Homo sapiens: one gene and its partners. The protein of the gene in region 4 purifies or fractionates together with the protein of the main gene of each other region. This does not show direct contact. Each region holds a gene or a part of one and is shown on either strand. Other genes may lie near its edges.

Region 1 (7,625 bases), on a different chromosome or scaffold from region 4:
GAGGAATAAAACAAAAGTAATAATGGTAACATATACTCAACTCCTCATAAATCTTCAAGCCAGGAAAACTCTATAAACTATGTTTTCTTTTTCTTTTCTTTTTTTTATTTTTAAACACAGGCTCTCACTGTCACCCACACTGGAGTACAGTGGCAGGATCATAGCTCACTGCAGCCTTGAACTCCTGGGTTCAAGCAATCCTTCCACCTCAGCTTCCCAAGGAGCTGGGACTACAAGGCGTGCACCACCATGCCAAACTAATTTTTTTTTTTTCTGTGTTATAGAGATGAGGTTTCACTCTGTGGCCAGGACTGGTCTCAAACTCCTGGCTTCAAGCAGTCCTCCTGCCTTGGCCTCCCAGAGTGCTGGGATTACAGGCATGAGCCACTGTGCCCAGCCAAACCAGGTTTCTTTAATTTCCTTTACAGATTAGGAAATGGAGGGAAAGGGTAACATTTACTGATATTTCCAATGACTGATGTCAGACAGTTATGATAATACTTGGGTGAGGAAACAGGCTCATATAGGTTAAGTAACTTGCTAGGCTGGAAAGTTCTGCCTCCAATGTGCATAACACAATGAAAGGTTCAAGAGGTTTAAGCCATATGCCCAAATTACATTTGGCCCCAAGAGAGTGGCAAATACAGGCACTCAAACTCAGGCATTCCACCTCCAAATCCTACATCCTCACCACCACATACCATGCAGCCTGGACATGAAAAGTGACCTCTTGGCCAGGCACAGTGGCCTGTAATCCTAGCACTTTGGGAGGCCGAGGAGAGTGGATCACTTGAGGTCAGGAGTTCAAGACTAGCTTGGCGAATATGGTGAAAACCCATCTCTTCCAAAAATACAAAAATTAGCCGGGCATGGTGGCATCCGCCTGTAATCCTAGCTACTCGGGAGGCTGAGGCAGGAGAATTGCTTGAATCCAGGAGGCAGAGGTTGCAGTCAGCTCTGAGATGATGTCACTGCATTCCAGCCTGGAGAACAGAGTGAGAATGTCTCAAAAAGAGAAGAAAAAAAAAAGAAAAAAAGAAAAAAAAAACAAAACAAGAAAAAGAAAAGTGGCCTCTTTAATTACCTTGCCTTTACAAGTTGCACATGTCTAATTATCATATAGGTCACAGCACGACCAATTTCCTACTCATCAAAGCACATTACACAGAATTCAATACTCCATGGAACCAAGGGACAGTCAAGCAACCCAAACCAGTCATGCCCAGGAGCCTCAAAAAAGGCAGAAAAGTATTCAAAAACATGGAGACAGAAAGTAGAATGGTAGCTGCTGGGGCTGGGAGGAGGTTCATGAAAGAGGGAGTCAGTGTTTAATGGGTACAGAGTTATAATTTTTTTTTTTTTTGAGATGGAGTCTCGCTCTGTCACCTAGGCTGGAGTGCAGTGCAGCAATCCTGGCTCAGTGCAACCTCCACCCGCCCCCGCGTTCAAACAGTTCTCCTGCTTCAGGCTCCCTAGTGGCTGGGATCACAGGCATGTGCTACCACGCCCAGCTAATTTTTGTATTTTTAGTAGAGATGGGGTTTTGCCATGATGGCCAGGCTGGCCTCGAACTCCTGACCTCAAGTGATCTACCTGCCTCAGCCTCCCGAAGTGCTGGGATTACAGGCATGAGCCACTGGACCCGGCCCAGAGTTTCAATTTTGAGGAGTTACGGAGATGGAGAGTGGTGATGGTTGCACAACATTATTTAATACCAGTAAGCTATATAACTTAAAAATGGTTAAAATGGCAAATTTTATATTATGTGTATCTGACCACGACAACAACAACAACAAAAATTGAAGAAGAAAGAAAAATGTAGAAAGGCAGCTTGAGTTGGGAGAACTGGGCTTCTACAATTAAAGGATGTTTTGCATGGTCAAGAATGAAGGCCAGGCACAGTGGCTCACGCCTGTAATCCCAGCACTTTGGGAGGCTGAGGCGGGCGGAGACCAACCTGGCTAATACGGTGAAACCCGTCTCTATCAAAAATATGAAAATTAGCCGGATGTGGTGGTGCAGGCCTATAATCCCAGCTACTCAGGAGGCTGAGGCATGAGAATCACTTGAACCCCAGAGAAGGAGGTTGCAGTGAGCCAAGATCGTGTCACTGCACTTCAGCCTGGGTGACAGAGCAAGAATCCATCTCAGAAAAAAAAAAAAGAATAAAATCTTGCTCACGCCTGTAATCCCAGCACTTTAGGCCGAGGTGGGTGGAGCACCTGAGGTCAGGGGTTCGAGACCAGACTGACCAACATGGTAAAACTCCATCTCTACTAACAACAGAAAATTAGCCAGGCGTGTTGGCACATGCCTGTAATCCCAGCTACTTGGGAGGCTGAGGTAAGAGAATCACTTGAACTCGGGAGGCGGAGGTTGCAGTGAGCCAAGATCGTGCCATTGCACTCCAGCCTGGGCTACAAGGTGAAACTCCATCTCAAAAAAAAAAAAAAAAAAAAAAGGGCCAGGCACCAGTGGCTCATGTCTGTAATCCCAGCACTTTGGGAGGCCAAGGCTGGTGGATCATCTGAGATCAGGAGTTCAAGACCAGCCTGGGCAACATGGTGAAACCCCGTCTCTACTAAAAATATAAAAGATTAGCCGGGTGTGGTGGTGTTCGCCTGTAATCCCAGGTACTCAGGAGGCTGAGGCAGGAGAATCACTTGAACCCGGGAGGCGGAGGCTGCAGTGAGCCAAGATCATGCCACTGCCTTCCAGCCTGGGAGACAGAGTCAGACTCTGTCTCAAAAAAAAAAAAAGAAAAGAAAAAAAAGAAAAAAGAATGAGCCAGGCATGGTGGCTCATGCCTGTAATCCTAGCACTTTGGGAGGCCGAGGCGGATGGATTATGAGGTCAGCAGATCGAGACCATCCTGGCTAACATGGCGAAACCCCTGTCTCTACTAAAAATACAAAAAATTAGCCGGGCATCGTGGAGGGCATCTGTAGTCCCAGCTACTCAGGAGGCTGAGGCAGGAGAATGGCGTAAACCCGGGAGGCGGAGCTTGCAGTGAGCTGAGATTGTGCCACTGCACTCCAGCCTGGGCAACAATGTGAGACTCCGTCCCAAAAAAAAAAAAAAAAAAAAAAGAAATCTGGGGTGAGGGTGGCAAAGTGCCTCAGTGCTGGTTTCCAGGCTGCCACCTGTTTGATTTGTAGTTAAAATGACTTACTCAAATTTCTAGGGGAAAAAGCACGTTAGCTAGAGAGAGAGGGATGTAAGAGCACTGGGACAGGAGGCAAAGAAACCTGGACTCCAATCGAGGCCCTGCTTATTAGCCAAATGACCTTGGACAAATTACTCATCTCAGTTTCCTCCTCTGTTAGGACAGGATAATAGGTCAGATGTAAGGATTCAATGACATTTAAGACAGTGCTCCAAAAATGCTAGCTATAGTTATCATTATTGTAAAATGCCCACATTTCCAGACCAAGTTTCCACAACCTCGAAATCCCAACACCTGTGCACCTGTAGAAGCAAGAAAGGCATTGGCCGGGCACAGTGGCTCACGCCTGTAATCCCAGCAGTTTGGGAGGCCGAGGCGGGTGGATCACTTGAGGTCAGGAGTTCAAGACTAGCCTGGCGAACATGGTGAAACTCCATCTCTACTAAAAATACAAAAAATTACCCAGGCATGGTGGCGGGCACCTGTAATCCCAGCTACTCAGGAGGCTGAGGCAGGAGAATTGCTTGAACCCAGGAGACAGAGGTTGCAGTGTGCCGAGGTTGCACCACTGCACTTCTGGGCGACAGAGTGAGACTCCGCCTCAACAAAAAAAAAAAAAGAAAGAAAGGAATGTCAATCCACCAGCTATGGACTTTTTCCATATGAGAAAGAGACCTCTTGAAAATCAGGTCTCTACTAGGACAGAGACCCCCAAATATCCTTCTAAGATACCTGGAAGTCAGCCTTTAAAATCTGAGAATTATGTTCCTGACATGGAATAAACTATCACTGAATAAAAACCTTGGTTTAGGCCAGGCGCAGTGGCTCACACCTGTAAACCTAGCACTTTGGGAGGCCCTGGCAGGCGGATCATGAGGTCAGGAGTTCGAGACCAGCCTGGCCAATATGATGAAAGCCAGTCTCTACCAAAAATATAAAAGATTAGCAGGGTGAGGTGGCACACACCTGTAGTACCAGCTACTTGGGAGGCTGAAGCAGGAGAATCACTTGAATCCGGGAGGCAGAGGTTGCAGTGAGCCGAGATTGCACCATTGTACTCTAGCCTGGGCAACGAAGTGAGACTCCACCTCAAAAAAAAAACAAAAAACAAAACAAAACAAAAAAAAACCCTTTGTTTAAATCCCAAGCCCCTCCTCTTGCTCCTTCCCCAAAGTTCACTGATTCAGGCTCCACCACTCTTTCCTAAAACTGTCCTATTTACATTTAGTCACTCATATTAGGCTTCTAAAATTGTACAGGATTTCTGCCAGCTCATTAGTTCCATTATTTGGCAAAAGAGAGGAAGGTCCAGGTAGGACCTAGCCCAAGATCTAGCAAAGTTGTCAAAGCATTATTACAAATTAAGGGTTCAATTTTTTTTTTTTTTTTTTGAGACACAGTTTCACTCTTGTTGCCCAGGCTGAAGCGCAGTGGTGTAATCTCGGCTCACTGCAACCTCTGCCTCTCGGGTTCAAGCCATTCTCCTGCCTCAGCCTCCCTAGTAGCTGGGATGACAGGCACCTGCCACCACGCCTGACTAATTTTTTGTATTTTTAGTAGAGACGGAGTTTCACTGTGTGTTAGCCAGGCTGGTCTTGAACTCCTGACTTCAGGTGATCCATCCGACTTGGCCTCCCAAAGTGCTGGGATTACAGGCGTGAGCCACAGTGCCTGTCTCAATTTTCATTAGGTTACCCTATAGTCAATAGCCTGTAAGGGGCAGTCACTGGCAAAGATGGATTAGACAAAGACATCACCCTCCTTTTCTCTAGGCTCATAATCCAATCAAGGATCTTGACTAAGCATACATTTTGGTTTAAAGAATGTTTATCAAGAAAAATGTCCCAGCTTAACCAACATAGTGAAACCTTGTCTCTACTAAAACTACAAAAAATTAGTTGGGCATGGTGGTGCGCACCTATAATCCCAGCTACTCAGGAGGCTGAGGCACAAGAATCGCTTGAATTCAGGATGCACAGGTTGCAGTAAGCCAAGACTGCGCCACTACACTCCAGCCTAGGCAACAGAGCAAGACCCTTTCTCAAAATAAATAAATAAATAAAATTAATAAAAAGACTTTATCAAGAAAAATGTAAACATCCTCCCTATTATTTCTTAGGAAGATGATGAAAGAAGAAAACTCCAGAGGTTAAATATACCTTTAAGTCCTGACTTCCAAGCCCCCTCAGCAACTGTCTTTGACAATAATCAGGTGCTCTCAAAGAACTGTTGGTTTTATTCATTTGTTAAGTTATTTGAAATACAGATTTCTTATCATTATCCTTAACAATTCCTTGTTCTGGGTTTTGTGGCTGTGTGTTCCTAGAAGAGCACTTGGAAGCAATGGGGTCTCGTGCTGTCACCCAGCTGTAGTGCAGTGGTACAATCCTAGCTCACTGCAGACTCTGAACTCCCTCGTCAGCCTCCCAAGGAGCTGGGACTACAAGCACGCACCACCATGCCTGACTACTTTTTTGTTTTTGGTGGGGGAGTAGAGACAGGAATCTCACTTTGTTGCCCAGGCTGGTCTTGAACTCCTGGCTTCAAGCAATCCTCCCACTCTGGCCTCCCAAAGTGTTGGGATTACAGGCGTAAGCCACTGCACCCACCCAACCACGAGTAATTGTCAAATGGTATTTGCACTTAGGATACACTTTCAAACTTCAGAAAGGAAGTTTAAGCACCTTTACAATCCAGGAAGACATACCAGGCAACTGATTCCCACAGATACAGGAGATCTTGGGGAAGGGGACTAAAAACATTACATCTCATACTTTCCCCAAATCCCAGCCAAAGGCAAACAACCTGCTTGCTTCCTCTTTAAATTTCATGCCACCTGCCCTGCTAATTCAAACCAAAAAACAAAGCTGTGGTATGGAGGAAATGAAGTCCCTTTTTAAGTATACATTAGATAAGAGAACTGACAAGTAAATACGGGGTATATAAGGTACAGACTCCTTCTTGGTAAGGCAGAGAAGTCACAAACATTGAATGGAGAACTCAGGAAGACTTCTTTGAGGATTTCAGGTAGTTCTGAATGAAATACAGCATGGAACTGGAAGAAGACATGGAAGCAAGAAGAACGCTGAAGTTGGGTTGAGAACAAGCTGGCTGCCTCAGCTAGAAAAAAAGATAATGGCAGAAGTGACTTGGACAAGGGAATAACTGGCAGGCTGCCCAAGGGAGCACATGAAAGAAATCAGATCTGCTGCAACAAGCTACCACAGGCAATGGGGTTTCTAAGCAAGGTAGCGACCAAGATTCAGCCAGGGTGGACATTGCAGATCATCAGCCCCTCATTTTACAAATGGGGAGAAGCAGGCCCATAGCATTAAGTGACTTGCCTGAGGTCTCACAGTAAATGGAAGAGCTAGGACTAGAGCCAAATCCAGATCAAATCCGTTACTGAATAGGATCTGACACTCATGTGAGGAATAGGGGTTGGAGGAGGACAGGGACACAAAATAGTCTAGTCATTCAGGTTTGTCCTGATTAGGGCTGGCAACAGGATCACGTGGAAGAGGGCCAGACAGGTGACAGCCAGGGAAATAGGTACAGATGATCCAACACACTTAGAAAGGAAAAACACTTTCAGAGGTAGTCTTTGTCTCCAAAAAAATTTTTTGAAAAAAGGAAAAACCCACTTGAGACTTAGAATAGATTAGACATGTGGGTACAAAAGGAGAAAGATCATCATAAAGCATGATCACCATCAAAGAATATCATCTTCTCCCCAGCATTTGTCTTTCTGGAGCACCCATTTAGAGAAAGCCAGAAGCTTCCATTCGAGGTCGGGGAACATAGCTTTATCCTGGCTTTTCCTGGCCCATTTCCAGAACCCAGAAAACCAAGAAGGACTCTTTGGAAATTCCAACACCTGTGACCCACTGATTTGGGGTATCACAGACTCCCTACTCATGGTAGGATGAGGAACCAGACAGACAAGCTGGCTATGCAGTATTTATTAGAATGATTCTATATCAATAATTATGTTCACATTCAAGTAAGAAATATGTAACCATTTAAATTTGGCAATAGCCAGGCATGGCAGCTCACACCTATAATCCCAACACTTTGGGAAGCTAAGGTGGAGGACTGCTTGAGCCCAGAAGTTCAAGACCAACCTGGGCAAAATGGCAAGATCTCATCTCTACAAAAAATTTAAAATTAGCCAGGTGTGGTGGCACGTGCCAGTGGTCCCTGAAACTCAAGAGGCTGAGGGGAGGATCGCTTGAGCCCAGAAGGTTGAGGCTGCAGTAAGCCGTGATCACACCACTGCACTCCAGCTTGGGTGACAGAATGAGACCCTGTCCCCACCCAAAATATATATATATACACACAGAAACCAAACTCCTGGAGAAGTTTTGGCCTTTTTTTTTTTTTTTTTTTTGGAGACAGAGTCTCACTCTGTGGCCCAGGCTGGAGTGCAGTGGTGCAATTTTGGCTCACTGCAACCTCC
Region 2 (7,625 bases), on a different chromosome or scaffold from region 4:
CAAAGACCCAAATACTCTGAAGGCAGGTCAGACTTGCCAAATGACACTGGTAGAAGGCCAGTTATCCTGGAACTAAAGTTTGAAAAGCATGAGCTGGCCTGGCGCAGTGGCTCAACACCTGTAATCCCAGCACTGTGGGAGGCCAAGGCGGGTGGATCACCTGAGCTCAGGAGTTCGAGACCAACCTGGCCAACATGGTGAAACCCTGTCTCTGCTAAAAATACAAAAATTAGCCAGGTGTGGTGGCAGGCACCTGTAATCCCAGCTACTCCAGAGGCTGAGGCAGGAGAATTCGCTTGAAGCCAGGAGGTGGAGGTTGCAGTGAGCCGAGATGGCGCCACTGCACTCCAGCCTGGGTGACAGAGCAAGACTCCGTCTCAAAAAATAAATAAATAAATAAAAAATAAAATGTAAAGAAAAAGAAAAAGAAAAGCATAAGTTGCTTCTCTAACCACTAGCCCAGTATTTGTTAGCCCTAAGCAGTGCGCTAACCACTGAACACCAATATGAATGTTCAAAAGCACAAGCTGAGCATCCCTAATCCAAACATCCAAAATCCAAAAATTTCTGAGCGCCAACGTGATGTTCAAAGAAAATGCTGATTGGAGCATTTTGGATTTCTGGATTAGGGATGCTCAACTGGTATGTATTCCAGAAATACTCCAAAATCCTTTTTAAAAAATCCAAAATCTGAAACACTTCTGGTCCCAAGCGTTTTGCGTTAAGAGATACGCAACTTTTATTTGGGAGGAGAGAGTGCAGCATAGAAAGAAAACTTTTGTTCAGTTTCAAAAAAAAAAAAAAAAAAGCTAATAAATAGTACCCACTTCATATCATGCCACATGATGAGGAGCTATTGAAATGCAAAGTAGAAAAGTAAAGAAAACAAACATGACTAGCTGTAAAGTTCGTTCACAGCATGTTGACAAAGTGCCCCACTATAAAGACTAACAGGGTCCACAGTGGGAGACGCCTTAATTCTGCCTTAATGATGCTGGGCACTGGTCATCATTTTCTGGCTCAACTGTAGGACTCTACAAACATAACTTACAACAAAACCCAGAGATGTTGTATGAAGAAGGTTTCAGGTGTTTTCCTGTACTCCTCTAAATGCAGAGTTGATTCATTCATTTGAGACATAGACACTAAGGACTAGCTATGTTCTAAACACTGTCAGGAAAGCAGAGTGTGAAAAATATTTCCCAAGAGGAAATACTGACATCACAGGTCAGTAAGAGAAAGATAAGAGAACATAAAATAAATGCAAGGCAGGCTAATGTGCTCAGTTGTCTCTTATTCTTCCCTTTCCTCATACTTTAATACAAATATTAGGAAGTCCTGAGTGAACAAGCTGTCTCAGTACTTGGCTTACTCATCCCAAAGGGCCTGGCTCTGCATTAAACTGGCCTTTGGCCACTGCGAGAGAAAAGCACTTCCCTTGGAAAAGACAAACAGTCTTCCCAGATTTCTTTACCTTTCAATTACAAGGGCCATGCAAGTACTGCAGGCTGGCTGCCTTCCTGTGCCGTTTTTCTGCCACCCTTTGGCACAGAGGCCCTTTGGCCAGGACAACTTGTAACAAACCCATTGTTGTGTAACCCTCAGTGCCACTTATTTATTGGTTTTTGTCACACACACACTGTAAGTGGGAACTTTGTCCTGCACTTATCACACTAAAGGGTACCTGAATGTTAAACTACAAATGTTTTACTGCCAGATTAAACAGGCATCATGAGAAGGTGCCTGAGAATATATGGGACCTTCTTCTCAACTCTCAAATTCTAGGCCCTGGGTTTTCAAGCCTATTAGATATATGAAGCACATCCAAGGAAGTTTAAAAGTCAAGAAAACCTCAGTAGAACCATGAAAACCTGGCAAAATTCACTTCCTGCCTCAGGTGGTGGGATGACTGTTAAAATGAACAGACCGTTAAAGCCCAACCATACTGCAACAAGATAATATCGACCATCTTTCCATTTAAAAGGTTCAATTCCATCCCTCATTTCTCTCCACCTCCAGTAACAAAGAGAAAAAGGGAAATCAGCACTAAACAGAGGCACTGTCATGCCTATAGGACCACCTCTCTCTAAATATAAATGAGTTAAAGGCCAGCTATCTACTTTGTTTGTTTTGAGATGCAGTTTCACTCTTGTTGCCCAAGCTGGAGTGCAATGGCACGATCTCGGCTCACTGCAGCCTCCACCTCCCGGGTTCAAGCAATTCTCCCTGCCTCAGCCTCCCAAGTAGTTGGGATTACAGGCATGCACCACCAGGCCCAGCTAATTTTTTGTATTTTTAGTAGAGACAGGGTTTCGTCATGTTGGCCAGTCTGGTCTCGAACTCCTGGCCTCAGGTGATCTGCCCACCTCAGTCTCCCAAAGTGCTGGGATTAGAGACATCAGCCATCATGCCCAGCCTCAGCTATCTACTTTCATGTTCTACAGGCAAAAGAGCCTTAACTTAACTGTTAAATTTTTATTCAACTGCATGTTACAATGACTATTCAAGCTCATAGACTAAGATTTCAGAGAGGGATGCCTTTCATCTGCCCCTCATGGTCACCATTTTCAGCTGTGACATGGGATTTGATAAATATGAATTATACCCATACACAGAGCTGCACCCTAAACAAGGCTTGGTTTCCCTCTGCTCCCTGGGACTGATGTTATGTCTATTTGACAAACATTCTGAATGGTCACAGAAAAACTATTCTTTACATGATTCTTTAAACCCACTCCCACCCGAAAAGAGATTAAAATCTGCTTGTGCTAAATCATCAGTGTTGGATTAGCTAACTATTATAAACCAACAAATTCCTCAACTCCTTATTGCAATCCTGAAAGAACACTTAAAAGCCAGAACTGAAGACAGATTATATTTCTTTCTTTCCTTTTTTTTTTTTTTTTTGAGACAGAGTTTTGCTTTGTTGCCCAGGCTGGAGGGCAGTGGCACAATCTCAGCTCACTGCAACCTCCGACTCCCAGGTTCAGGCAATTCTTGTGCCTCAGTCTCCTGAGTAGCTGGCATTACAGGCACCCACCACCACACCCAGCTGATTTTTTGTATTTGTGTACAGACGGGGTTTCACCATGTTGCCTAGGCTGGTCTCAAACTCCTGAGCTCAGGCAACCTGCCCGTCCCAGCCTCCGAAAGTGTTAAGATTACAGGCATAAGCCACCACACCCGGCCGACAGATTATATTTCTATAGCTTCATCAATCTACTAGTCTCAATATCAATGTACATAAACTGGAGAAAATTCTAAGGCAGACCTTTTTACTTACAGGGCTCAATGAGTGGAAAAATAATTATAACTCTACCTTCTATCAGAAACCTATTCTGAGCCACGTCTTATTGCCATTCCCAGGCCACAAACATTTTCCAAACTAATCTGGATTCTACATAAGTTTCTTGAAAAATAGTAACATTTTACTGCCCTATGATCTCTTTACCTCATTTATGTACAGTTAACAATCTAGAAAAAGGAAACTGACAAAACAGCAAAAGCAGAATAACCAAAACCTGGAAGCCACCAAGATGTCCTGCAATAGGTGAATGGGTAAACAAATTGATATATCCACACAATGGAACATTATCCGTCAATTAAAGAAATGACCTATCAAGTCACAAAACGACATGAATGAATCTTAAATGCATCTTGCTAAGTGAAAGAAGCCAGTCTGAAAAGGGCTACATACTGTATGATTTTAATTATGTGATATTCTGGAAAAATGCAAAACTGCAGGGATGGTATAATAAAAAGATCAGTAGTTGCCAGGGGGAAGTGGGGGAAGTTGAACAGGTAAGGCACAAGAGATTGTTTAGGACAATGAAACTATTCTGTTTAATACTGTAATGACAGATACATGATGCTATGTATTTGTCAAAACCCACAGAATTTTACAGCACAAAGAGTGAGCCTTAGTGTTTGCAAATTTTTAAAAATCATTTAGGAGGTTAGAAGATCCCAGGATGGAATGCAGAATGTGATAAAACAAATTAATTGTATTATGAATATATGAAACAAGTCAATGAAGGAAATGGGAGACCTAAATAACTCTAGAAATGAATGGAGTCAGATGAAAGGCAAAAGAAACAGTACGTAAGCACCACATTCTGTTTGATAGTCTCCCACAGGAATGGCGATACAAGTTAATAATTCTGATACCACTATACATGTATACTGGAATTGAATAATTATGTAAAGAATGAATGACAATAGGAGACAGGTTTCTCACTGTTGGAGTGAGAAGTAACAGACAAGCAAAAGGAGAAGGCTAGAAGGATCCATGTGGTAATGGATTAAAGTTGGAGACATCAGTATGAACTCATACTTAGTATAGTACAATATACATAGTTACATATAGAAATATTTAAATATGTATATATATGCTGGTTAAATATACACACATATATTTTCTTTTCTGTGAACTCTGCAGAGAAGTATACACATTTTCTTGCTGTCAGCTATAAGGGTGACACCCAGGAGCAATGAGCATCCCTAGTGAAGAAGAAAGAAAGGAGAAGGGGGGAGGAGGGAGGGGGAGAGGGAGGGGGTGGAGGGAGGAGGAGGGAGGAGGAGGAGGAGGAGAAGCAGCAGCAGCAGCAGTAGTAGTAGTAGTAGTGGTAGTAGTAAGCATCTTTCAGTGTGAGAAAGTACCTAAGTACTAAAAAAAAAAAAAAATAAAATCCACAATGATTGGAGTATGTCAAAGGGACATGAGATCCAAGTGAAAGATTGGAGACTAGCCAAAACTGAAATAATTTGAGTACCAAAATAAAGTAATATTGAATTATAAGCCAAAGTATAAAATAAATACCCATGAGTACATGCTGATATAAATAAATGACTGAATAAATAAACAAATGGGGGAGAAGAGAGGAATCTCTGGCATAAAAGAATTCCAAGTAATGTCTGAAGATGCTGTGTCCTCAAGGAGAGGGGACATAACTTCTCACTCCCTGGGTGTGGGCTGCACATAGTGATTTCCTTCCAAAGAGTACATATGTAAAGGGGAAGAAAGAGTCACTTTACAGAGGAGAAACTAGATATATCCTACTTTAGCCAGGTGATCAAGGTGAACATCAAAAGTTATAAACCATGGTGATAATATATACACTTGACACAAGGTGATGAAAATGGTACTTTACCTCTGTTGTCTTCCACCCCCAAACATATAACCCCAGTCTAATCATGATTTAAACATCAAGTACCAACTGAGAGACATTCTACAAAATACCTGACCAGTATTCATCAAAATGTCTAGGTCATCAAAAACAAGGAAGGTCTGAGAAACTGTAAGAGCCAAGCAGAGAAATGACTACCAAATATGATGTGATATGCTGGACAGGATCCTGAAACAAGGGCATCCGGGTAAAAACTAAGGCAATCTGAATAAAATATGGACTTTGTTTAATGATAATGCATCAACATTGGTTCAATAATTATAACAAGTATACCATACAAATGTAAGACGTTAATAACGGGGAAAAATGTGTAGAAAAAAATAATATGAATTGCTAATAAGGGTCATCTTCAAGTGCACGGAAGATTATAAACTGCCTATTTGAACTTCTAACAAATCAACAATTTCTGCTAAAAGAAAAAAGATTTTCAGACAGGGCAACATAGTGAGACCTTGTCTCTACTAAAAGTAAAAAGACTAGCCAGGTATGGTGGCACACACCTGTAGTCCCAGCTACTCAGGAGGCTGAGGTGGGAGGATCATTTGAGCCTGGGAGTTCAAGGCTGTAGTGAGCTGTGATCGTATCACTGCATTCCAACCTGAGTGACAAAGCAAGACCCTGTCTCAAAAATGAATGAAAGAAAGAAAGAAAGAAAGAAAGAAAGAAAGAAAAAGGTTAAAGTCTAAATGGAAAGAATCATTTTCTATCCAAGCATTCTACAGTTTTTCTAAGGATACAGAAGTCACAACTGAATTTCAGTCTCATATTTGCAAACATCGTCATTTCAGATAGTTGTTTCATATGCACCAAAGGAAACTACCTTGAAACTGTATATTACATACATTAAAACATTTTTTTAGGCCAGGTGCAGTGGCTCACGTCTGTAATCCCAGCACTTGGGGAGGCCGAGGCAGGCAGATCAACTGAGGTCATGAGTTCGAAATCAGCTTGGGCAACATGGCATTATCCCATCTCTACTAAAAATACAAAAATTAGCCGGGCGCAGTGGCTTATGCCTGTAATCTCAGCACTTTGGGAGGCCGAGAGTTTGAGACCAGCCTGACCAACATGGAGCCCCGTTTCTACTAAAAATACAAAATTAGCCAGACGTGGTGGCACATGCCTGTAATCCCAGCTACTCGGGAGGCTGAGGCAGGAGAATCTTTTGAACCCAGGAGGCGGAAGTTGCGGTGAGCCAAGATCACGCCATTGCACTCCAGCCTGGGCAATAAGAGCGAAACTCTGTCTCAAAAAAAAAAAAAAAAAAATTAGCCGGGCATGGCAGCAAGTGCCTGTAGTACCAGCTTCTAGGGAGGCTGAGGCAGGAGAATCACCTGAACATGGGAGGTGGAGGTTGCAGTGAGCCAAGATCACACCACTGCACTCCAGCCCGGGCAACAGAGCAAGGCTCCATCTCAAAAAAAAAAAAAAATTAGTTTTAATTTAGTTGTTTATTCACTTGAATCAGGCATCTCCAAAACTTAAAATGTTGGCCCCTGACACAGGTGTCACACCACAAGCTACTAATAGAATTCACCCAGCACACTAAAACCTTACTACATTGCCACCAGGACCACAGTGTGAGGAGCAACAATGGTAGCAAGAAGTATCCGGAATTTTATGTAATAAACTTTCTGAGTGGGGTCTAGAGAGACCTAGCTCACTCTAAATTGTGCCTTTTAGAAGGTATTGCCATAGCATGACTCTAGCTTATAATTTTAAATGAGTTAATGAATACTCATTTAAAATTTCTTTTGGTTGTTCATTTTGAGACAGTCTCACACTGTCACCCAGGCTGAAGTGCAGTGGCATGATCTTGGCTAATCACAACCTCCGCCTCCCTGGCTCAAGCCATCCTTCCACCTCAGCCTCCTGAGTAGCTGGGACCACAGGTGCACGCTGCCACGCCCAGCTAATTTTTTTTTTTTTTTTTTTTTTTTTTTTGTAGGGATGGGGTTTTGCCATGTTGCTCAGGCTGGTCTCGAACTCCTGGGCTCAAGCGATCCACCTGCCCCAGCCTCCTGAAGTAGTGAGATTACAGGTGTGAGCCACTTGCACCCAGCCTCTCACTTAAAATTTCTAATACATTCTGCTACCATCTGTGAGTACAAAACCATCTAAGTAAAATAAGAATAGTTTGGCATTTGGAAGTAATTTTTTAAAACAACATTCATATTAATTTAAGGAGCATAACAGATTCCAGTGAATGTTATGATTCGCTATTGTAACATTATTCTAGTAAATATGTTGGAGAAGAACAGTTCTAGTGAATTAACTATGGTTTTGGAAGGCAGCTATGCTCACCATCATACCACCAACACAACTATGGTTTTATTTTATATTATTTATTTTATTTTTGAGACAGAGTCTCGCTCTATCGCCCAGGCTGGAGTGGCACAATATCAGCTCACTGCAACCTCTGCCTCCTGGGTTCAAGGG
Region 3 (7,625 bases), on a different chromosome or scaffold from region 4:
CCCAGGCTGGAGTGCAGTGGCACGATCTTGGCTCACTGCAAGCTCTGCTTCCCAGGTTCATGCCATTCTGCCTCAGCCTCCCGAGTAGCTGGGACTGCAGGCACCCACCACCACGCCCAGCTAATTTTTTTGTAGAGATGGGCTTTCTCCGTGTTAGCCAGGATGGTCTCGATCTGCTGACTTCGTGATCCTCCCGCCTCGGCTCCCTAAAATGCTGGGATTACAGGCGTGAACCATCACGCCTGGCCAGTACAGAGTACTTTTAATAATCTGCACCACAGTTGTGTGAGATTGGTACTAATACTGTTTCGTTTTTGTTGTTGTTTTTGTGTTTTGAGATGGAGTCTCACTCTGTTGCCAGGCTGGAGTGCAGTGGCGCCATCTCGGCTCACGGCAACAGCCTCTGCCTCCGCGGTTTAAGCAATTCTGCCTCAGCCTCCTGAGTAGCTGGGACTGCAGGCGCCTGCCACCACGTCCGGCTCATTTTTTGTATTTTTAGTAGAGACAGGGTTTCACCATGTTGGCCAGGATGGTCTCAAACTCCAGACCTCGTGATCCCCTCGCCTTGGCCTCCCAAAGTGTTGAGATTACAGGCATAAGCCACGGCGCCCGGCCTGGTACTAATACTGTTTCTACTTTAGAGATGAAACTAGGCACAGAGATTGAGGATCTTGCCATGGTCACACAGCTAGTAAATGGTAGAGTGCCTCTTAAACCCAAGCATTCTGGCTACCCAATCTGTGCTGTTAATCACTACATCAAATTGACCCTAACGAGGCACTTATTTGCAGCCAGCACTGAGCTTAATGCTTTACATATGATGATAAAATTAACAAAAGAACCAGGTTAAGAAGTATTGTTTATCTTCTGGTTTTGCAGATTTGGTCATACAGAGTCCAGACTTGAATCTTGGTGTTTCTAGAGTCCTGTCTACATTCTTAGGCACCTTGCTTTATGAAGGATTCTGACGAATCCTGCCTTTCTCACTTAATTTTCCATAAATTAACCTGTGAACCTCAGTTTTGTCATCTGCAAGTGAAGGTAATACCTATCCTCTAGTGTGGCTCTAAGGATTCAGTGATAAAAGTGCGCACAAAGTTGTCAGACATAGTACTGAATGCCAAACATTTGTTGATGGTGCTGGTGCAGATGTTAGTGTGTTGGTTTGCTTACACCCAATGAGACTGACTTATTGTTACCCTTTATTTCATGAGAAATTCTCCTTATGGGCACTGAAAGATGGCAAATCTTCTTTGGCAGCTTTAGGAATCATTAAAGAAATGATTCTTAAACAGGGAGTGGAAATTAGAGTCACTTATGGAACTTTGAAGTATATTATTTGATGCATTTATATCATTTCCGGTCTCTCTCCAGTCACTTTTCCAGACTGTTTCCAGATCTTCTTTTGCTTCTTAATGATTGTGCTTTGAGAGCAAATGATGCAAATTGAATCTGATTTTCCATTTTAGCAAATCACCTTAATAGTGACTTCTTTTTATCTCCTAGGCCTACAACCCCTGAAGGTTGGCTCATTAGGTCTGGGACACTGCCTTGAAGATATATACTTAAAAGCACTACGTGTGATTCTGATTTGTACTCTAGTAGAAAACTGCAATATAATGTACCTCCTCAAGACAGTCAGAATGCACGTGACTTATGCAGGTTAATGGCCCTGAGGAGTGTCTGCCTACCAGATCCTTAGACCAAGTGAGAGTTAAGAATCTGGGGAACTATTCAGAAGCACTAGAACTGCCCTACCTGTGGTAAAATAACTAAATAGTAATACATAGCAGGAAGTCCAAGATTATAGGATTGTATGACTGGTCATTAAACATCTCCAGTGTCAGCATTTGATTTTTTGAGATCATAATAATTCTGTGATCTTCAACATAACTAACCATTACTTTTCTGTTCTTTTATATAAATGTGGTTAGGAAGGTAAATTAAGAAAATTTTATGAGAGGAAGTTGAACTGAAAATACTGTTACTTGGCTGTAATATTTCAGGTTGAATACGGACACTAATGAAATAGAATGTAATGATAAAAGCTTTCCAATTCTTACCATTCTTATAAATTTTTATAAACTTGTTACAATACTCAAAACAGTTGTGTGGAAAAGCTATACTAGAAAACAGAGGGTGGAAAAATATTTCTGATACATTTTATCAAATTTTGGCTATTCACTTCTCCTTACCTGTCTTTCCATGTCAGGCTTCTATGCCTGGGTTGTTCCGTTATCCTAATGCGTAGCTGCCTCCTAGACCTTCTTGACTCCAAAATTCTTTTTTTTTTTTTTTTTTGAGACGGAGTCTCGCTCTGTCACCCAGGCTGGAGTGCAGTGGCACTATCTCCGCTCACTGCAAGCTCCGCCTCCCGGGTTCATGCCATTCTCCTGCCTCAGCCTCCCGAGTAGCTGGGACTACAGGCGCCCACCACCATGCCCGGCTAATTTTTTGTATTTTTGGTAGAGATGGGGTTTCACCATGTTAGCCAGGATGTTCTTGATCTCCTGACCTCGTGATCCACCCACCTCGGCCTTCCAGAGTGCTGGGATTACAAGCGTGAGCCACCACGCCCGGCCCAAAATTCTTTTATTTACCGATATGTTAACAATGTATTCATTCAGCAAGTATTTATCAAGGGGCTGTTATGTCCTCTAGGATCTTAGGATAGTATCAGTTGAACATAGAAAGTTGGTGGCTAGAAGATAACCAGTGCCCTTGTCACCATTCTGCCAAGGATCATAGCTTGTTAAATTGAGGAGCCACATATATTTATAACATATTCGTCATTTTTCTTAGATTTTAGTATCATTTTGAAATGGCCTAACACTTTATAAATAGTTGTACTTCTCCTTTATCCTAGATATAAACCACAGTACTTCAGGATCCCATTATGAAAATTCCCAGCGGGGACCTGTGTCTTCTACAAGTGATTCTAGCACAAACTGTAAGAATGCTGTTGTAAGTGACTTGTCGGAAAAAGAAGCATGGCCCTCAGCCCCTGGCAGTGATCCGGAGTTGGCTTCAGAATGTATGGATGCTGATTCTGCCTCCAGTTCTGAATCAGAGAGAAACATCACTATCATGGCTTCAGGGAACACAGGTGGTGAAAAAGATGGCCTTCGGAATAGCACTGGACTTGGTTCCCAAAACAAGTTTGTAGTTGGTAGCAGCAGCAATAATGTGGGCCATGGAAGTAGTACTGGGCCATGGGGTTTTTCCCATGGAGCCATAATAAGCACATGTCAGGTCTCTGTGGATGCTCCTGAAAGCAAATCTGAAAGTAGCAACAATAGAATGAATGCTTGGGGCACTGTAAGTTCTTCATCAAATGGAGGGTTAAATCCAAGCACTTTGAATTCAGCTAGCAACCATGGTGCCTGGCCAGTATTAGAGAACAATGGACTTGCCCTAAAAGGGCCTGTAGGGAGTGGTAGTTCTGGCATTAATATTCAGTGCAGTACTATAGGCCAGATGCCTAACAATCAGAGTATTAACTCTAAAGTGAGTGGTGGTTCTACCCATGGTACCTGGGGAAGCCTTCAGGAAACTTGTGAATCTGAAGTAAGTGGTACACAGAAGGTTTCATTCAGTGGTCAACCTCAAAATATTACCACTGAAATGACTGGACCAAATAACACTACTAACTTTATGACCTCTAGTTTACCAAACTCCGGTTCAGTGCAGAATAATGAGCTGCCTAGTAGTAACACAGGGGCCTGGCGTGTGAGCACAATGAATCATCCTCAGATGCAGGCTCCATCAGGTATGAATGGCACTTCCCTTTCTCACCTTAGCAATGGAGAGTCAAAAAGTGGAGGCTCTTATGGTACTACATGGGGTGCCTATGGTTCTAATTACTCTGGAGACAAATGTTCAGGCCCTAATGGCCAAGCTAATGGTGACACTGTGAATGCAACTCTAATGCAGCCTGGCGTAAATGGTCCTATGGGCACTAACTTTCAAGTTAACACAAACAAAGGAGGTGGTGTGTGGGAATCTGGTGCAGCAAACTCCCAGAGTACATCATGGGGAAGTGGAAATGGCGCAAATTCTGGAGGAAGTCGAAGAGGATGGGGAACCCCTGCACAAAACACTGGCACTAATTTACCCAGCGTTGAGTGGAACAAACTGCCTAGCAATCAGCATTCCAATGATAGTGCAAATGGCAATGGTAAGACGTTTACAAATGGATGGAAATCTACTGAGGAAGAGGATCAGGGTTCTGCCACATCTCAGACAAATGAGCAAAGCAGTGTGTGGGCCAAAACAGGAGGTACAGTGGAGAGCGATGGTAGTACAGAAAGCACTGGACGCCTTGAGGAAAAAGGAACTGGGGAAAGTCAGAGTAGAGACAGAAGAAAAATTGATCAGCACACATTACTCCAAAGCATTGTAAACAGAACTGACTTAGATCCACGTGTCCTGTCCAACTCTGGTTGGGGACAGACTCCTATTAAGCAGAATACTGCCTGGGATACAGAAACATCACCTAGAGGGGAACGAAAGACTGACAATGGGACAGAGGCCTGGGGAAGCTCTGCAACACAGACTTTTAACTCAGGGGCATGTATAGATAAGACTAGCCCTAATGGTAATGATACCTCATCTGTATCAGGGTGGGGCGATCCCAAACCTGCTCTGAGGTGGGGAGATTCCAAAGGCTCAAACTGCCAGGGGGGGTGGGAAGATGATTCTGCTGCTACAGGAATGGTCAAGAGCAATCAGTGGGGGAATTGCAAAGAGGAGAAGGCTGCATGGAATGACTCGCAAAAGAATAAACAGGGATGGGGTGATGGACAAAAATCAAGCCAAGGGTGGTCTGTTTCTGCCAGTGATAACTGGGGAGAAACTTCAAGGAATAACCATTGGGGTGAGGCCAATAAGAAATCCAGCTCAGGAGGTAGTGACAGTGACAGGTCCGTTTCCGGTTGGAACGAACTTGGTAAAACTAGTTCTTTCACTTGGGGAAACAACATAAATCCAAATAATTCATCAGGATGGGATGAATCTTCTAAACCTACTCCTTCCCAGGGATGGGGAGACCCTCCAAAGTCTAATCAGTCTCTAGGTTGGGGAGATTCGTCAAAGCCAGTCAGCTCTCCAGACTGGAACAAGCAACAAGACATTGTTGGATCTTGGGGAATCCCACCAGCTACAGGCAAACCTCCTGGTACAGGCTGGCTGGGGGGACCTATACCAGCCCCAGCAAAAGAAGAAGAACCCACAGGCTGGGAGGAACCATCCCCAGAATCTATACGTCGCAAAATGGAGATTGATGATGGAACTTCAGCTTGGGGAGATCCAAGCAAATACAACTACAAAAATGTGAACATGTGGAACAAAAACGTCCCAAATGGCAACAGCCGTTCAGACCAGCAAGCACAGGTACATCAGCTGCTAACGCCTGCAAGTGCCATCTCAAACAAAGAGGCAAGCAGTGGCTCTGGTAAGTTTCTATTTTATGAAATCAAGCCTTGTTTTAACTTACTGTTATTATAAGATTTGTATAACAAAGTACTTGGATATGCACACAAAGGCTGTTCTTACTGTAATCCAGAAGCAGCTTGAAAAAAATTATAGGGGTGATGTTTACCACCAGAGAACAGAACTCCACTTTTGGCAGTGTTGTTTGAGTCCTGCACACTTCATTCTCTATTAGAAATGCAAGAGAAGGCGAATTGGACAAAGGCGGTCAAGTGGGAATGCTGTACACTTCTCCAAGTTGTTTTTGAGTTAGGCCTTAACTTGTGGTTTTATTATTTGACTAAAATATCTCCAGAAATAAAACAAGTATCTCATAAATACAGTACTCTCTAAACATTAGGTTGTATATTTGGCTTTAGAAGGGATTTTTTTTTTTAAGTAGGTGAGAAATCCAACTCTACTTAGATACAGTATATATGTTTGTGTATTTAAAACATTTGACAATACCTTTCTAGTATATCCTTACTTTCCTCTCTAATAATGAACTAATTCCTATCTCTGCAAATTTTCCCAACAACATTTTTGTTAAGTGTGATTGGCTACATTGTCTTTGTTAATAAAAGTTTTATTGACTTAATAGTCTCATTGGAAGTGGATATGGGAGTGCTTTCATGAGCTAACTTTTTGGCACTGAATTTTTTTTTTTTAGTCTAAGTATAGTTTGTTGTATTAATTTAGGTTTGATTCTTAAAAGGAAGAAGTATGTATCTAAGATGAAGCCTGTTGGCTTTGATTTTTTTTAATGAAACATTTATGGCTTTTTTTTTTTTTTTTTTTTTTTTTGCTTTGGACAACCTCAGCCTAATACTTCAGATTTTAAAATAAGCATTGTTCAGCATATGTAAAAAGTAGGTGACCCATTATTGTTAGCTGGGTAGTAAATTGTTTTTCCAGTGTAGGTGGTGTGGAAGGGGTACACTTGTGGCACAATTTTTTTTTTTTTTTTTTTTGGAGATGGAGGCTTTCTCCGTCACCCAGGCTGAAGTGCAGTGGCATGATCTCGGTTCACTGCAGCCTCCACCTCCCAGGTTCAAGCAATTCTCCTGTCTCAGCCTCCTGAGTAGCTGGGACTACAGGTGTGTGCCACCACGCCCAGCTAATCTTTGTATTTTTAGTAGAGACCAGGTTTTGCCATGTTGCCCAGGCTGGTCTCAAAATCCTGACCTCAGGTGATCCACCTGCCTCAGCCTCCCAAAGTGCTGGGATTACAGGCATCAGCCACTGTACCCAGCTGGTACAGATGTTATACATACACTGTCACCCAGCTTATCACCTGCTCCAATTTACAAGGTTTGGTTTAGAATGACTTGACTTTTTCAGGAATTAAACTGATGCTCAAAGGAGAGTGGTTTTCCATAACTATGCAAAAATCAGCTCTAGGTCTAGAGGGTAATTATGAAAAAAGTTAAAAAAATTCTCACCTTATATTAATGGGAAATAGTTTGTCTTTTTTTAACATAAAACAGATGCCATCTTTTTGCCTATCACAGTATCATTATTCAGTACATAAACATGAAGTTCTTCATCCTTGGTCCCTAAGTTTTCTTTATTGTCCCTTATTCCACTGCACCTCCTTACCTTCTATGCTGATGACTTCTTTTCCCACACTTTCTAAAGGCTGGGGTGAGCCCTGGGGGGAGCCTTCTACTCCAGCCACAACTGTGGATAATGGTACTTCAGCATGGGGTAAGCCCATAGACAGTGGTCCCAGCTGGGGGGAACCCATTGCTGCGGCATCCAGCACATCCACGTGGGGCTCCAGCTCTGTTGGTCCACAAGCATTAAGCAAATCTGGTAAGTTATTGACAATGCCTGGTAGCTGTTATGTAGCAGTGGCGAACACTCACTGACTATAATTAAATAATTAGATAAGGTTTCTATGTTATTTATAATATATTCATATAATGTAACATGATAGATGATGTTCAGTATTTTGCTCTTTGATTTTGTAACGTGGTTTATTCTCTTTCTGAATTTTCCTCTTTTCTCATATTTCTTAGAACTGTAACTATTCATTTGCATATACTTCATCAAATCTAAATTATATTTTACCAAATTAGGTTATCTAGGAAGAGTCTACTAGCAACTTTCATGCCATCCAGCCTGAGAGGCCAACTAGTGTAGCCATGAGGACA
Region 4 (7,625 bases):
TTTGCCTTACCTATAAAATCAGGTATTCTGTAAGCCTTGCCCCTTCCAGCTATATGATCGATGACTACAGGTTGCCCCTATGAGGGATTCAAATGTTTAGAGAAGTAAACATTTAAGAGAGATTTAAATTAATCCTAGATGAGAGGAATTTTTATTTGTATAACATATAACTTATGGAAAACTAGTGTACTAGTAGAAAATTCAGATTCTAGGATGTGGGTATATGTGTTTCAAAATTTAGTCTATCACTAGTATATAACTTTGCAACTTATAGTATCTTCAAAATATAAAGCTTTTTATAGCAAGAATTTTGGGGGTCAAGAAAGGACTCATAAGTTAGAAAAGTATGCACAGATGAAATTTTGTCCATCCCTGGGTATAGATACATATTATTTATTTATTTATTTATTCTTTTTCGAGATGAAGTCTTGCTCTGTCACCCAGGCTGGAGTGCAGTGGCACGATCTTGGCTCACTGCAACCTCCGCCTCCTGAGTTCAAACAGTTCTCCTGCCTCAGGCTCCCGAGTAGCCGGGATTACAGGTGCCCGCCACCACACCGAGCTAACCAGGCTGGTCTCAAACTCCTGACCTCGTGATCCGCCCATCTCGGCCTCCCAAAGTGCTGGGATTACAGGCCTGAGCCACCGCGCCCAGCCTATAGATACATATTTTAAGAGTTGGAAAAAGTTTAAAAACTGAAGAGCCAAACTAAGGTTACAGGCCACGGGGTTATAAATGCCAAGATGGAAAATTTAGGAAGTAAGCTTATATGATAAAGTTTGAGAACACATGTTACTTAGAACAGGTGTAGAACAAGTGGAGTAATAAATTGAAATTTAAATTTTTAAACTGTATACATACACATATATTTGTTTTGAGACAGAGTCTTGCTCTGTCACCTAGACTGGAGTGCAGTAGCATGATCTCGGCTCACTGCAGCTTCTGCCTCCCCAGTTCAAGCAGTTCTCCTGTCTCAGCCTCCCAAGTAGCTGAGAACACAAGCGCCCGGCTAATTTTTGTATTTTTAGTAGAGACAGGGTTTCTCCATGTTGGCCAGGGTGGTCATGAACTCCTGACCTCAAGTGATCCCTCCTCAGCCTCCCAAAGTGCTGGGATTACAGGTGCAAGCCACCACGCCTGGCCAAAACTGTATATTTTTAAGCAAATGAATAGGTAAGAGTCAATGCAGATATGTTTGCTTAGACTTGGTGCTGGAAAGCAGCAATAACAGCGTTTATGTTCAAATGTATAAATGTGTGTGATTCTTTTGTAGTCGCAACACTTCTGTCTGTGCAACAAATACTCCAAGTTAAGTCATAAGGAAAAAGAGAAAATTTAGCAATAGTCAGTAATCCCAAGATGTTGAATATCAAAAACAAATAAGAGGCCTTAAAGTATTATAATGGTCACTGGTTTTGCAGTGACCTAATACATTTATTAAAGCTTAGACTGACTTGAATAAACTGGCAAAAATGAAGGTGTTTTAATATTGTCAGTCATTTGTAAAATTCATTAGAGAACTAAAACTTTGTTATGATTAGAAGCAGCAAGAAAAGTGTTGAAAGTAGAAGCTAGACTCATGATGGAAAGGAATCAAAGACCTTTTGGATTATAGGCATGGGTTAGGAGATGAGATTGTCCAGGAGGATAACATGATCCAAGATGCTATTATCTCTCTCCATGGAGATCACAGGCAAAGAGATGTAGAGTGGAATTACAAAAGCAGGAAACTGATGTGAATTGCAAATTATATTTGGAAGATAGTTTAGTGATAATCAGTAGGACACAATAAGCTATTTGTGGTGGTTCAAGCCCACAGCTCTCAGCACTTTGGGAGGTCAAGGCAGGAGGATCACTTGAGGCCAGGAGTTCAAGACCATCCTCGGCAACATAGTGAGACTCTTTCTCCACAAAATTTTTTTTGAAAAATAGCCAGGCATGATGGTATGTACCACTTAGGAGGTTGAGGCTGAGGCTGGAGGATCCCTTGAGCCCAGGAGTTCAGGGCTGCATCAGCTATGATGGTGCCACTGCATTCCAGCCTGGGTAACAGAGCGAGACCTTGTCTCTAAAAAGTTAATTAAATACTTTAAAAATAGAATACCATAGAAGCTACCAACATGTGCTTGTTTCTAGAACTCTTTTTCTATTAAAATACTGTACTGAATGTTAACCATTTTTTCAACAAATTCTTCAGTATTAAAATGAATTAGCTAGAATTGATTTATAGACATTAAAATGAGGCAGCATTGTACCATGTTCTCAGTTTTCAACCTGGACAGAAGAGGAAGAGTCATACCTTCTCATTGACTTCCAGAGTGCTATGGACAGTCTTTTTTTCCTGAGTTTCTATTTTTTCTCATAAGATGGGAATAATATTGCCTTAAAAGGATGTTAGAGTGTCCGGAACGGTATTTTATATGATGGGAAAGAAGAAAAGTGTACACGTGCTGAAAAAGCCATTAGGTTTACACAGTAAAAGAACAGGTAGTACAAAGTTAAGGCAATTAAATAGCATATGATTAGCCCACTTTGTACCTTAGGGCCAAAGGGTGATTAGAAAGGATTTTTTGGCCAAGAAAGTTTATAATAATATAGAGAAAAGATTTCCAAAGGTGAGCCCTTTCCCTTGAGAGTGTAATGTACTGGAATTGTAAAGTGAAGATCTTAATTCCTCATAACAGCTTGGTGTAAATACTATAAAAAGAAAATTGTTTTCCAAGTCAACCTGTGACTTCTTTGATACTCCTCTGCAGGTTGATATAAAGCTGGTATAGAGAGTTTAAATCAAGAGGTGAAATGTCAGACCTTTGACATTTGTTTTGATTTTATGATTTTTAATTCATATAGCGGGCATCTGGAATAATACCTGCTATTACAGTAGACATTTTAGGTCACTGGCTACAAATGGTCACCTTTCCTTAAGAAACTAGTCTTCTGCATGAAAAAATGTTTGCATCATCTTAGAGCAATAAATAGTGTTGCAGTAATCCCAACTCCTTCTCTAAAAATAAAAGCTTACACTTAACATGGTGCTTATTATGTGCTAGGCACCATTCTAAATATTTTACATATATTGTTAATCCTCATAGCAGCCTTGTGAGATAGGTACTATTATTATCCTCATTTTAACAAATGAGGAAGAGTGACGGGTTAAGTAACTATAGACACAATTACTGTAAACTACTAGTTATGTTTAATAGTTTTGGGGGAGTCTTTGGAAATCTCCTGCCTCCACTTGGAAGGAATCACCCTCCTTCCTACCTCCCTTTTATTGATAGCTACTATAGTCTTTAGAGATTGAGATTGCCTTAAAATTAAATCACTTCTTCCTTTTTATTTTGTTTTCATTCAAAACTCCCTGAGACAGGCTTCAGGGGTTATTACAAGTATAAGTTTATAGAAGCAGCCAGGAATTCAGTAACCCGTATCAGAGTATAGGTTAGTTCGTTATTACGGATAATCTCTTTCCCTTCATTTGTCTGTTATTCTTTTGCCTACCTTTTATCATTTTGACCAATAATGGACTCAGGTCAAGCACTGGCATATCTAAGTAACTATATTTTTAGGTCATTTGAAAAAGATACAGGGTGAAATATTGTTTTATAGTAAGGGCACAATATCTCTAAAATACTACTTCAGATAATTTTTTACAAGAGTAAGAAAAATCTAAAATGATGATGATGGTATTTTATGGCATAGATTCCTCTGGTTACATGTTTGAAAATGTAACAATCAATTCACCAGAGATCTATTCTCACAGAATATGGCGACTTAACCAATATTTTTAAAATATTATTATTAAGGGGAAATAGATTATCCATATTTGATAGGATTTGGTAAAGTTAGCAAGCATGAATACTGGAAGTAGTGATAGAAAAGCATGCAAATTAGAACTCTACTGCATTAGAACAAATCCACTAACAAATTAACTTCTTAAATTTGGGAAGTAAATGTTTTTACAAATCCCTCAATTCAGGATGATAGATTCCCACTCTTGTGGCATTGCTAAGTTAGTAAAGTTGCAAAAAACAATTTATCCTGTCCCAGCTTACTGTTCCTTACCAAGGATGACACAAATATGAATGTCACATTTGGTTTTTAATTACATTATTCTTTAAATATTTTCTTTCATATGACTAGTCATTTAAATTAACACTGTAATTTTCATTTAAAGTGGATTTTTCCATTTTTTGGAGCACATCAGGATAGGCTTATCAGAGACCATCATCATAAAATGGCTACCTTAAATTCTTTTCTGTAAGATGACAGTTTAGAGGAAGAGTGCCACCTGACTAGTCACTCAGGTAAGAGGAAACTATTGGGTGGGAAAGAAAATACCACATAATTATAAAGAAGACCCATGTCCCGGAGGCTTAAGTAAGGATATTTTTATAGCTTTTGCCCACAGTCTTTATCCCAGTGATGGCACAGTGATCCACAACTTAAGGAATCCCTTACCACAACTAATACATAAATCAACCAAACTAGGCAGTGGGTCCTATGATACCAAAATTATATATTTGAAAGTCCCACTTCCCTCACTCTTTGGATCACTAGTATTATGTGATACATCGTTGTATGATTAAAAATTACATATATATAGCAAATTTTAACTGTTAATGTAATCTGATTCTAAAAGGAAATTAGTTTATTTAAATAGTCACATAAAATGCTAAGATATGTATGATGTTATTACAGTATTAATTATTATATTGGAAAATTGTAAATAATCCAAATGTTTACCAGTAGGGGATAAATTACATTATAGTTTAGCAATAAAATGCAATCTTATGTAGGTATTAAAAAGAATGAGTTACTATCAGTAGTTATGCCTGTGTGCATGCATGAAAAGATGTCCAAGACATATTGCTTAAATAAAAAGAAACAAGTTAACTTTATAAACTTAACACAGCTTAAAACTGTTTAAAACTTAACACAGCTGTGGAATTGTGGGGAACTTTCACTTAAGTTACATGTGTTTATGGTGTTTGAATTTTTTAAACATGTATTTTCTCTGAAAGCAGAAAAAAGAAAGTCTCTGTTTCTGTGTTGGTTATAACCTGTTATCCCTGTCTGTTGAATTTTATAAAACATATAAAGGATGTAACTAAAAAAAGAATACCATATAACATATACAAAATAATACTTTTTGTGGGTTAGAAAGTAATGCATATAGAGATGAGGTAAAGGAAGAAATAAAATGAAAGGATTATTTAGGAGTAGCTCCATTGAGGAGGAGGAAGAAGTTTCACATTTGAATACCTGAAAAGAAAGGCCAGAGGCAGTGGCTCAAGCCTGTGATCCCAGCTCTTTGGAAGGCTGTTGCAGGTGGATTGCTTGAGCCCAGGAGCTTAAGACCAGTCTGGGCAACATGGGGAAACCCCGACTCTACAAAAAATATAAAAATTAGCCTGGTGTGGTGGTACAAACCTGTAGTTCCAGTTACTTGGGAGGCTGAGGTTGGGGGAATCACCTGAGCCCGGGAGGTTGAGACTGCAGTGAGCCAGATCACGCCATTGCACTCCAACCTGGACGACAGTGAGACCCTGTCTCAAAAAATAAAAATAAAAATACTGAATGGAGCAAAACTGTGAGTACAGCTTTCATGATGGAAGCAGAATGGAATAAGATTGGAGAGAACTGGAGTGAGATGCGTTGGAAGTAAGGTCTAGCTCCAGAGCAGCTGATAGAGGGTTCTGAAGATTGTAATCTGTGCTGTAATGGGATTCCAAAACAGAAAAAATGATGCCAACATACCAAATGCAGAAACAACCTTAATGTCAGTGCTACAGACTTTATAGTAGTGTGCAGTAATAGCAGACATAGTTAAGATAAAAGAGGAAATGCCCCTTCCTCTTCCCTAGCCTGTTTTCAGCACAGCAGCCAGAGTGATTCTTTTAAAAGTTAAGCCAAATGAAAATTTCCATTGGCTTCCCATTTCAATCATAGTGGCCCAGAATGAGCTCCCTCCTCATGACTTCTTGACCTCATTTTCTTCTACTCTCCCCACCCTGCTCATTCCATTCCAGACACAGTCCTCCTTGCCGTTTCTCAAAACCATCAATCTCTCACCTTAAGGCCTTTCTTTATACTGACTGTCCCTCTGCCTGGAACCCTCTTCTCCCAGATATCCAAATTGCTAACCCTCTTACTCTTTAGAATCTTTGCTCAAATGTCATCTTCTCAATGAGGCCTACCTCTGACCATCTATTTAAATTTTCAATCTGCCTTTCTTCCTTTATATTCCTACAGCAATTTCATCTTCTGGTATAGTATCTAATCATTATGCTTATTGTCTATCATCTCTCTCTTTCCTGCTTGCATGAAAGTGTTATGAAGGCAGAATCTCTGTGTCTTTTTGTACACCAATGTATCCCATGCGTCTAAAACAGGGCTTGTCACATAATAGATGCTTACCAAATATTAATTGAATGGAACGAATGGATTCAAAAGCATGTAAAGAATGTGGCACTTAAAATCTAAGAGGAAGTTGTATGCTAATGCTATGAGTTTTAACTTCCCTTTAAAGTTTTTGCTTGAAATGTCATAGAATCTCAAAACCAACTAGTAGTACTATACATATCTATCACCAATTTGGGAAACAGTTTCAGAATATAGTTTGGACATTATTGATAATGTTTTAAGCTATTAATTCACATGTTTGAATTTTATTCCTGGTATAATGTTATTTGCTTTTACTTATAAAAAGCATGCTTTACGTGTCCCTTAGTTTAAACCTTATTTCCTGTTTCTAAGTGTAAACTTAACTTTCTACCTATCTTCTGGAATTATTCATTTGCTTAGCAGAAGAATTGTGTAGGCCGGGCGTGGTGGCTCATGCTTGTAATCCCAGCACTTTGGGAGGCCGAGATGGGTGGATCATTTGAGGTCGGGAGTTTGAGACCAGCCTGGCCAGCATGGTGAAACCCCACCTCTACTAAAAATACAAAAATTAGCCAGGTGTGGTGGTGGGCGCCTGTAGTCCCAGCTACTCCAGCTACTTGGGAGGCTGACGCAGAGAATTGCTTGAACCCGGGAGGTGGAGGTTGCGGTGAGCCGAGATCACGCCACTGCACTGCAGCCTGGGCGACAGAGTGAGACTCTGTCTAAAAAAAAAAAAACAATAATTGTGTAAAACTTTTTTGTACCACTATGAACTATTTCTTACATGAACTGTGTCATCTTATAGATGATGATTGGCAGGAAGCACATGAGCGCCTGGCTGAATTGGAAGAAAAGCTACCAGTGGCAGTTAATGAACAAACAGGCAATGGAGAGAGAGATGAAATGGACTTGTTGGGTGACCATGAGGAGAATCTGGCAGAAAGGCTCAGTAAGATGGTGATTGAAAATGAACTAGAAGATCCAGCTATTATGAGGGCAGTGCAGACCAGGCCAGTTTTACAAGTAAGTAAGTTACTGTGATTTGAGAACTATAGCAGACTAAAAATTAAAGTGAAGTATTGAACTTTGCCATTTTATTTTATCTATTATAATGAGAGATTTACATATACCATAGAAAATTGATAATATATTTCCTGATGATAGAAGTTCTAGAGATAAACTTGGGGAATAATGTATATTCTGGAGCCCTATAATTTCGTATTCTAAAGCAGCTTGA

Evidence for each region.
Region 1: the proteins of PATL1 (region 4) and PHF20 fractionate together in Homo sapiens (co-fractionation; one large-scale study listed by BioGRID). This does not show direct contact.
Region 2: the proteins of PATL1 (region 4) and EDC3 purify together in Homo sapiens (co-immunoprecipitation; one large-scale study listed by IntAct). This does not show direct contact.
Region 3: the proteins of PATL1 (region 4) and TNRC6A purify together in Homo sapiens (affinity purification with western blotting, with the first as the bait; one study listed by BioGRID). This does not show direct contact.

The regions. Positions count from the first base shown.
Region 1 is NC_000020.11:35,775,686-35,783,310, reverse strand, and holds part of PHF20 (PHD finger protein 20), read right to left. Parts: intron 1,006-7,625; exon of another isoform or gene 702-1,005; intron 1-701. UniProt on the Homo sapiens protein: Methyllysine-binding protein, component of the MOF histone acetyltransferase protein complex.
Region 2 is NC_000015.10:74,662,909-74,670,533, forward strand, and holds part of EDC3 (enhancer of mRNA-decapping protein 3), read right to left. Parts: intron 1,801-7,625; exon of another isoform or gene 1,475-1,800; intron 1-1,474. UniProt on the Homo sapiens protein: Binds single-stranded RNA. Involved in the process of mRNA degradation and in the positive regulation of mRNA decapping. May play a role in spermiogenesis and oogenesis.
Region 3 is NC_000016.10:24,786,366-24,793,990, forward strand, and holds part of TNRC6A (trinucleotide repeat-containing gene 6A protein), read left to right. Parts: intron 1-2,866; coding exon 2,867-5,452; intron 5,453-7,107; coding exon 7,108-7,284; intron 7,285-7,625.
Region 4 is NC_000011.10:59,659,038-59,666,662, reverse strand, and holds part of PATL1 (protein PAT1 homolog 1), read left to right. Parts: intron 1-7,193; coding exon 7,194-7,411; intron 7,412-7,625. UniProt on the Homo sapiens protein: RNA-binding protein involved in deadenylation-dependent decapping of mRNAs, leading to the degradation of mRNAs. Acts as a scaffold protein that connects deadenylation and decapping machinery.